2 separate regions of the Homo sapiens genome follow, and region 1 is linked to region 2. Evidence: fine-mapped expression QTL. A gene starts in region 2. The other region holds a variant in brackets. All regions are shown on one strand. Distances are between the middles of the regions.

Region 1 (5,000 bases), 31 kb before region 2:
GGCTTTCCAATTAGATTCTCTTCAACTTAATGCATCAAACATTGAGCATTGATTCTTTTCTGGGTGCAGAGTTATGCAAAGATGGACGAGGAAGAGCTGTTGTCCTCCAGCAGCTTAATCTCACAGGGGACCAGACATACACTCCAATGACCATAACTCAAGGTGGAGTATATGTTAGAGTGAAGACTAAGTGCTCAGAGGGCACAGAGGAGACAGCAATCCTCTGAGCTGGGTGAATCCAACAATGCTTTTTGGAGCTGGTGGCATTTGAGCTGGTCTTCAAAGATGCCCAGTACTTCCATAATTTGGGATGGGAGCCTGGAGAAGATGGGAAGGGAGAAGGGCATTTCAAGTGAGGAGAACTACAAGGGCAAAGGTGGGAAAAGGGCTATGTGCAGGAGACTGCAAGAGGTTTGGGTTCAATTCCAATCCTTTTGTTTTACAGTTGCTAGCCATAGGCCAGTGTAGTTCAATGGTTCTCAAACTTGGGCATGCAACAAAATCACCTGGAGGGCTTGCTGCAACACAGATTCTTGGTTCTCATCTCCAGAGTTTACGATTCGACAGATCTGAGGTTGAGCTAGGGAATTTGCATTACTAACAAGTTCTCAGGTGAGGCTGATCCTGCTGTCCCAGGAACCACACTTTGAGAACCGCTGCTATAGTAGGTGTTGTTGGTGCTCTGCCCAGATGCCTTTTACCAAGCCATTGTACTCATGAGCCAGCTGCTGTGAGTGTTGGCTGCTAATGGCTCACAGATGCACTCTTTCCTGAGAATTTGCCCTCATGACAGGAGCTATCTTACCCAGAAATACCTGTGAAATTATGTCCTTCACCTGAGTGTGGCCCACAGCCAGTGACTGATGGATTTGAAATTCCAAAGCCTTTTCCCTTGCTGCAAGGTGGGGCAGTCTACTTCTCCGGTGCCAGTCATGCTTCAGAGCTCCCTATGGGATCAGACTGAGGCTAGACTTCAGCAGAAGCCATGTTTAATTTTTCCCTCTGCCTGATCCTGCTTCTCTCACTTCCTTAGAGGTTTCTCCTGAGAGCGCTCCCTCAATAAATCACTCTTCAAAGAATCCTTGTTGGAGGCTCTGCTTCTAGAGAACCTGACCCAGAGCAGTCCCCTTCTGGGTCTTTTCTGATTATGAGTCTTCATTAGTGGGGCTTGTTATCTGCTGAAACATAGTGTGGGATGAGGAGTCAGGTGGCGCAATCTGCAACTTTCATTGACATTCGCTGTCTTGAGTAGCCTATTATTAACTAAATTCCTTCCTTTGAGATGGGGCTCAGGGAAATCCCCTTCAGTTACACTCCCTTTACTTTGGATGCTTTTTCACCTTCTGCTATGGATTGAATTGTGCCCCTCTAACCCCCAAAATGCATATGTTGAAGATTTAACCTCCTTTTATTTGGAGACAGGGCCTATATAGAGGTAATGAAAATCACATGAAGTCATAAGGGTGTGGCCTTGATAAGACAGGAATAGTGTCCCTTAAGAGACACCAGAGTGCACTCTCTGCACACACACACAAAGAGCTCGTGTGAGCACACAGCAAGGTGGCAGCTACCTACAACGCAGGAAGAAAGGGTTCACCAGAAACTATGCCGGCACCCTGATCTCAGACTTCCAGCCTCCAGAGTGGTGAGAAAATAAATGTCTGTTGTTTCAGCTACCCAGTTTATGGTATTTTGTTACAGCAGCTGGAGCTAAGACAACTTCCTTCATCATGCTTTACCTCCAGCAGTCTCCTCTGGTGTATCCTGCCTGATTCTCTCCAGCTCCATCTTCCCTGCCATTCTGTTATTAACCTCGAGGCTCTCTGGAGACATTCTCCATCCTCCTGAGCCACCTGCAGCCCTCTTCAATCTAATCAAGGGACTGTTGGATAAGCCTTTCATAACCATGACACGTTTAATAAAGTCTCTAGCTTTGAGAGAACATATGCCAGTTCTCAGCTTCTTCCTTCACCAAAATCCTCATTTCACAGTACTTAGTGAGTGGGCGTCCCATTTTGATGTTAGGGATTATAGCTGCTTCCTTGAAGATAAAATGTTTTTCTTTTTATAATTCTTTTTGTTGTGAATGTTTTGAGAAAGGGGATGGAGTAAAAATCGCTTTACCCCATCATCTTTAACCAGAAGTATCCATTTTTATATTTATAAACATATATATGTATATATATAAAATTCATATCCCATTATAAAATGATGTTTGTATATATCATACTTTCTAATATATGGCTGCGTAGTAGTTTCCAGTTTTTCTGTCTTATAAACATCATTGCTATAAACTTTGTCCACTTATCTTTGTATATTCCTTTATCTGATTATTAGGCTATATTTCTAGAAATGGAATTTCTGTGTCAAAGACTACATGCATGTTTAAAACTTTGATGTACACTGCCACACACTATCTCCCAGAAGGCTATCAGGGTCAAGTTACAAAGGGTTGCTGGAACATCACCTAGAAGGTGAAGCCCACAAAGGATGCCTCCCCCAGCCTGACCCCTGCAGAGAGGCATTCCTGAGAGAGGGCTCAACAAATGCAATATGCTATAAAAAAAAATCTGTATAAATGAGTGATAAACACAATTTTCATTTCTGTAATATTTCTTTGCCTAGACTTGGTACATGGTAAAAAGGTCATTAAATTTTTACTTTTTTATCCATCGCTTTAAATAAGTATTTACTGGTTTAAACTTTATGCAAGGCGCTGTGATAGGCATTGGTCCACAGTAAGTGATCCAAAAATTCATATATTGTTGACTAGCTTTATTCAAAGCTCCTCAAAGATTCTACAGTATAAAGAGATATAGGCGTGCAAATAAATGAACGATGTTCACTTATTCAGTCAACAGATATTTCTTGAGAATATATGTGCCAGGCACTATTCTAAGCCCTGAGGATACAGTCATGAGCAGAAGCAAAAAAACCC[C/T]CTGCCTTGGGGAGCTTACATTCTAGTGAGAGAGATGATAAACATGATATACATGGTAAACAGAAAAAATACGTTAGACAGTTATAAGCAGGGCTGTCCCTATAAGGGTGAGAGAGCCCCGAGTAATTCAATTGGATTAAATCTCCTACTCAAGAGGATCACACCTGAATGCAGGTGGCACTGCCCTCATCTTTCAAAGGATACTTGGGCCATCATTAATATCATTAAAAGAAAAAAATTTAAGTGGAATTTTAATGATAGAAATGAAGAGTCAGGTATAAGAACTCCTAAATACAGAACACAGGGTGACTGCGTCAGGTCCCTAACCTAAGAAAAGAAGAAAAATAAAACAGGGAAGAAAGATTTAATGTGTTTGTCTTGCGAGGGTAAGGTGCAGGAACACTCTAATTTTAATAGGGAGGCCAGAGAAAGGCTTATTGAGAAGGAAATTTTGTGTAAGGACCTGATGTCAATGAGGAAGCCAGCTATACTGACACCAGTGGCAAGAGCACTACAGGCAGAGGAAACAGCAAACACAAAGGCCTCAATACATAGTACACACAGCACAGTGGCAGTCAGGAGTCCATGGGCAGGTGGAGAAAAGGCCACATGAAAGGGAAAGAGGATGCCAGTTGAGGACAAATGAGAGTTTAAAAAGGTGAGGGGCTGAGAGCAGTGGCTCACACCTATATTCCCAACACTTTGGGAGGCCAAGGTAGGAGGATCCTGTGAGCCTGGGAGCTCGAGACTAGCCTGGGCAACATGGTGAAACCACATTTCTATAAAAATACAAAAAATTAGCCAGGTGTGGTGGCATGTGTCTGTAGTCCCAGCTACCCAGGAGGCTGAGGTGGGAGGGTCACCTGAGCCTGGGAGGTCAAGGCTGCTGTGAGCTGTGTTTGTGCCACTGCGCTCCAGCCTGGGCAACAGACCTGCTCTCAAAAAAAAAAAAAAAAAGAGGTGATTGGGGTAGTTCAGCAGTGAAATACAAAACAAAGCAAAAAGGTAAAGCTACATATCATATCTATTGCCTGAAATGTGGAGTGGTTTAAGGTGATAATGAGAATGAGTTTTTTAAAGCCTAGAAAAATGAAGTTTAAAGCATGCTGTTTTCAAATACCGTATATGAAATGGGTGTTCTACAGTCATCAATTGTTTCCTGCATCCACAGAAGACAGAGAAAAAAGACTTAAAGATAACTCACCAGGCCTGTGCCAAAGAAATCAATCAGATAACCTCTGGAGATCCCTTTTAGCAATCTGTAAGCCTCAACACAGTGTTTCTTACACAAAGAGTTATTGCCATTTCAATTTAGAAACTTGGCAAAAAGAAAATGCTCAGCATTTCATTTTATTGAACATGAACACAATTGCTATAATTCACATTCCTTCTCAAAAACCTTAAATGGTTCCAGTGTTACAAGAAAATACCTGAAAGCCTGTGATCTAGCCGTAATGTTCAGTTTTAGTTTCACTTTTTGCTCTACTCAGACTTTTTTATTCATCTTTCCCCAAATTCATCATTATGAATGACTACTCACCTTCACATCTCTTATCTGGTATACCAAGGTGGCTTTTGAAATGCCTTTCCTACTCTTCTCCATTTAAAATTTGCTTTTCCGGGCCGGGCGCAGTGGCTCACACCTGTAATCCCAGCACTTTGGGAGGCTGAGGTGGGCAGATCACCTGAGGTCTGGAGTTCGAGACCAGCCTGGCCAACATGGCAAAACCCCATCTTTACTAAAAATGCAAAAAAATTAGCTGGGTGTGGTGGCAGGTGCCTGTAATCCCAGCTCCTAGGGAGGCTGAGGCAGGAGAATCGCTTGAACCCGGGAGACGGAGGTTGCAGTGAGCCAAGATAGCGCCATCCCACTCCGGCCTGGGGGATAAGAGCAAAACTACATCTCAAAAAAAAAGAAAAACTTGGCAAGACTCCATCTCAAAAAAAAAAAATAAATAAAATTAAAGCATATATAAGTAGAAATACTCCTACAATGAACCTCCATATATCTATCACCCAGATTCAATAATTTATTGCCACATTTGCTTCTTCAACTAACCCT
Region 2 (5,000 bases):
ACGAAGGAAGCCAAAGAAAGGATTCCTGCATTGGTAGTTCTCTTAGGCTGAGTCAGATTTTAGGAAAGGTAGATTGGGAATAGATAATGAAAGATCTGAAAAGCCAGGTTAATGGCAATGAACTTTATCCTGTACTCCAGTGGTTCTCAACTGGACTGGGTGTAGATTTTGGCCTCCAAGGGACACTTCAAAACATCTGAAGTTTTAACTGTCACAACTTGGGAGGGAACGCTGCTAAATATACCATCATATACGGGACAGCACATCCTCAAGTAATTATTGGTCCCAAGTATAAATAGTGTAAAGCTGGGGAAACTATGCAGTAATCTATTTGGCGGTGGAAATGTGAGGGTTGGAGATGTAGGGAGAGAACTTTTTTTTTTTGAGGCAAGGTCTGGGCTCTATGGCCCAGGCTGGAGTGCAATGACTCGATCTCGGCTAACTGCAACGTCTGCCTCCCGGGCTCAAGCGATCCTCCCACCTCAGCCTTCCTAGTAGCTGGGACTACAGGCATGCACCACCACGGCCGGCTAATTTTTTTGTTTTGTAGAGATGGGGTTTTGCCATGTTGCCCAGTCTGGTCTCTAACTCGTGAGCTCAAGCGATCCGCCTGCCTTGGCCACCTAAAGTGCTGGGATTACAGAAGCTAGTCACTGTGTCCGGCGGATAACTTGTTTTTTAAAAGAGAGTTACACTTTAGGGTTGATATGGAGCAGATGAATAGGAAAGAATGTACTCTCCAAATGTTCAGTTCTTTTCTTACCTCACATTCTTAAGTTTTCTGAGAGAAGCAAACACATGCTTTAATACAAAACTCATTTCACACCTTCTATATTCACCATTACCCTTCCTATTTCCTGTTTTGGGTAGAATTACTTAAGTAGAAACGGCAGAGACTTGGTTTTCTTTAAGGTTCTTTGTTGCAGTTAATGAGAAGAGGCAACCAACCTTAGAGAAATCCATACAATGCCAGGCCTGGTGACTCGCCTGTAATCCTGACACTTTGGAAGGCCGAGGTGGGCGAACAGCTTGAGCTCACAAGTTCAAGACCAGCCTGGGCAACATGGTGAAACCCCAAAACCCTCTCTACTAAAAATTCAAAAATTAGCCGGACCTGGTGGCAGGCGCCTGTAATCCCAGCACTTTGGGAGGCCCAGGCAGGCGGATCACTTGAGGCCAGCGGTTCAAGACCAGCCTGACCAACATGGTGAAACCTCGTCTCTACTAAAAATATAAAAATTAGCTGGGTGTGGTGGCAGGTGCCTGTAATCCCAGCTACTCCGGAGGCTGAGGCAGGAGAAGCTCCTGAACCCAGGAAGCGGAGGCTCAGTGAGGCGAGACCGCGCCACTGCACTCCAGCGTGGGCGACGAGCGATTATGTCTCCAAAAAACAAAACAAAGTGCAGGTTTGGGAGGTAGTCTAATCCCCCACCCCTTTAGAGCAAGGCAATTTCCTCAGGGCCGCAGTTTACCAAAGGTGGTACACTCTGGGGTGCTATCCTTTCCATTTTTTACAATCCCTGACCCTGGTATTCCCTGATGCCTTATCCTGTCTTCTAAACCAGTGCCACTGGTTTCGTCCCCAGTTCACCCTTTCATCGCTAGCTCACATGCCCTTTGTGGTCCTTCTTTCCCCAAACCTCTTCAGGTCAAGTCCTTAGAGGACCTTCTCCCTGACCAGCTCCCTTGGTTCTGGTGCTACAGCTGGACTCCTCACGCTCTTTCTTCAAGCATCATCCATTGGGAACGTGGTGTACTTTAGAAAACACGGACCCGGCCTAAGGCTTCTGTCTCCGAGGGGCCAGGGCCACGGCTTCCAAGGCAAACCAGCCCTGGCACCACCTTCTCACCTCCATCCCAAACCCTCCTCCTCAGTTCAAGGCCCTAAAGCCTCAGACTTGTGGAGGCCCGCCCCAAATTATGTAAAGAATATATAAATGCCCCCGACCTTAGGTACAATTTATAGCTAGATGTGTTACGTTGCGGCTGACAGCTTACATTACATTTTGGTAGACTAATTAATTTCGATTTACAACTGGTTTTCCCTTTTGGGGGGTCAAGACGCTATTTCTGGCCTCAAAGAGTTTCGTGGGCTGGTAGTGGCGCTTCCAGGGTCTAGAGGAAAAGGCGGGCCCGCGTCAGACCTCCCGCCGCGGCCCTTCCACGCCTCCCGCCGCGCGTCTCTTCACCACCCCTCCACTGTTGCTCCCTTCCCACCAACATCCCCGTCCTTCTGCCTTGCCCGGCCAGGCCCCCATACCCTCTGGTGCCAGCCTGCCTACCCCGCTACCCGCTCACCTGGGACTCCCGTTAGCTCTGGGCGCCGGACCTTCCGGGCTCGAAACCTCCCTTGCGCCCCGCCCCACGCAGAGCGTCCCGACCCGCAGCTCCGCCTGCTCGCCGCGGCCTCCGTGGAGTCCGGGGTCGCGCGCGCTCCAACTCTGAAATCTTCGCGCCACGCCTCCCACAAGCCCCGTCCCACCCTCAGCCCCGCCCCTTCGCCGCGGCCACCGCTGAGTTTCCGGGCGCGCGCTCCTACCCCGAGCTCTTTGCGCCACGACTCCCACAGGCCCCGCCCTGCCCTCAGCCCCGCCCCACCCCGCCACCGCGGCCTCCACCGAGTTCCCGGGCGCGCTCGCTCCACCGAGTTCCCGGGCGCGCTCGCTCCTACCCCGAGCTTTTCGCGCCACGCCTCCCAGAGGCCCCACCCCGCCTCAGCCCCGCCCCCTCGCGGCGGCCTCGGCCCCTCCTACCCCTAGCTCTTAGCGCCACGCCTCCCACAGGCCCCGCCCACAATCGGCCCCGCCCTCTCCGGCTCCCATTACTTCGCGGGCCAAGATGCGAAACCACTCCTGTGCGCCTTTCCCCAGGCCAGTCCCGGGGCGCGCGCTGCCTACCCTCCCCCAGCTCAGCTCTATCCCCGGGGCCCGCAGGACCCAGGGGACCCACCCTCCCGCGAGCACGCACGCGCAGGGCCCACCTCTGCGAGTTCCAAACCCTCGGCCCTCGGGTCGCCTGCCCTGGGCCTGGCCCCGCCTCCAGGTCCGGCCCCGCCTTCGTGCCGGGGCCCGCGCACGCGCGCCTCCCCGGCCCAGCCTTGCTCCCGCCCCCGCCGGTCCCGCGGTCCCACGGCGCCTGGTTGCCCCCAGCCCCCTCCCTCCTCCCACCTTCACTGTGTCCCACCCTTCCTAGCTTTGTGCCCGGGGTGCTGAGCCCTTCCCCGTCAGCCGGGCCGCGGGAGGAGGGAGCCGTCACCGAGGAGCTGCCGCTCGCTGCCCCGGGCAGGGGCACAGGTAGGTGGCGGCCGCGGGCCGGGCCGCTCGCGGGGCCCCGGGTTGCGTGTGGGAGCGGGGGCGGGGTGTTAGGGAGGGGCGGGGTGGGGGAGGGGACGCCCCAGAGGGACGGCGGGGCGCGGGTTGAGGGGAGGATGAGGTATACTGGTGGGGGCGATGGGTTTAAGGGTGGCGTAGGGGTGCGGGGGCAGGCTATGGGGACGTGTGAGAATTGGGGTTCGGGGCCTGGGTGGGACAGGGAGCAGGATTAGCCTGGGTGGACTCGGGGAGAGGCATGCTTGGGGAGAGAGCGGGAAGAAGGAAGGGGGAAGGGAATGGGATTTTAGGGGTTCAAGGAGGAAACGAGATAGGATAGGAATAGAGAGGGTGGGGTCTTGGGGGCAGGGAAGAAAAGTTGGGGGTGTGGAATGCCAAGTTGGGGATAGTGAGGCGTGAAGGAAGAGGGTCTTGAAGATTGAGAACAGAAGGCAAGGAAAGGGATGGAGAGATTGGGGTCCTAGGAGAGGGAAGCCCCTAGAGTGGGAAGAAGGGAAGAATAGATGGTGAAGGAGAGGAGTGGGGGGTGGAGGAGTGTGGGGAAGGAAGGGGAGGCAGGTGAAGGTTGGGAGATCGGAGGTTGGAAGGTTGGGTCTGTGGGACAGCAAGCCACCTTTCACCAGGGGCTCGGAAGGGCTGGAAGGGTCTGAAGGTTGAAAGGGGCAGGAGAGCTGGGGTGGGCGAAGGGAGTGGGGTTAGGATTTTTGGTGTGAGAAGCGCTAGAATTGGTAAGAGTGTCACGTTGTGGGAGAGACTGGCATGTTCTTGGAGGGAAGTAGGGAGCCTGAAAGGGTATGGGTGAGAAGGCAGGTAGGAAAGTGCATATTATAGGAAAAAAGTAGTGAGGAAAGTTGAAAATTGAAGAATGGGGACACACAGAACAATGAAGGTGGATTGTTGGTTATTGGTGGTTTAGAACTACCCATAGTTTAGTTTCTGTTTAGGTTTTTATGTTAGAAATTTTCCCAAGAATACTGCATTTTCAGATAAACCAAAAGTGTCTGCAGCCTTGGGATGAAGGCCATGGGTTGGCAGATGTTCTCCTGGTATATGGATGTAGCTCATTTTGGGCCTGGCTGAGGGAAGAAGGGAGGCCTCGTTGTAAATGTCCTGGCTGTGTTCCCACTAGCTCTTTCCCCAGATGTGCACTGTTTTTTTGTTTGCTTTTGTTTTTTAATCTTATCCCCACCCCCTCCCCCCAGGCTTCATCCAGTGAATACTAGAGGGATCGAACAGGTGGGTGAGATTAATTTTTCACATTTTTTTTATCCTTAAGGTTGATGTCATATTTTTAGTCTTGAGAAACAGCATCATGCCAAGGAAAGAGCTTGAGCTTTGGAGTAATGCGGCCCTGAGATTGAATTCTGGCTCTGCCACTTATTAGCTCTGTTCTAGAGTAAGTTATTTTATTTCCGTGGGTCTCTTTGTCTATTAAAAGGCAATACTGACCTCATAGGATCATTAAAGATTACATGAGATCATTTTATATAGTACCTAACACAGTGCTTGGCAACTGGTAGGTGCTTAATAAATGGTAGCCATCATCCAGTATCATTAAACATCATAGTTACTGCTACAACTTGTTATTCTTAGGGGATTTTTATCTTACTTTATCTACTGAAGTTAGATATTTTCTTCTTCTTCTCTTCAAATTAGCCGTAGATTCAGCTC

The links. PIP is the estimated chance that this variant, and not a neighbour inherited with it, causes the effect. A credible set is the group of variants that fine-mapping cannot tell apart.
Region 1: its variant is the best candidate, but not a certain one, in a credible set for the expression of IFT25 in B cells (Fairfax 2012, PIP 0.74).

What each region holds. Positions count from the first base shown.
Region 1 is chr1:53,912,301-53,917,300 of GRCh38, forward strand. It overlaps a transcript of IFT25 not described here. Among named protein-coding and RNA genes, the nearest start is that of DIO1, 21 kb to the left of the region's middle. The variant C/T (reference allele first, on the strand shown) is at 2,939.
Region 2 is chr1:53,943,257-53,948,256 of GRCh38, forward strand. IFT25 (intraflagellar transport 25) reads right to left here and starts at 2,443. Exons shown (of 6, transcript NM_016126.4): 1 at 2,299-2,443. LRRC42 (leucine rich repeat containing 42) reads left to right here and starts at 3,094. Exons shown (of 9, transcript NM_001256409.2): 1 at 3,094-3,293; 2 at 4,532-4,565. RefSeq lists a silencer at 2,340-3,409.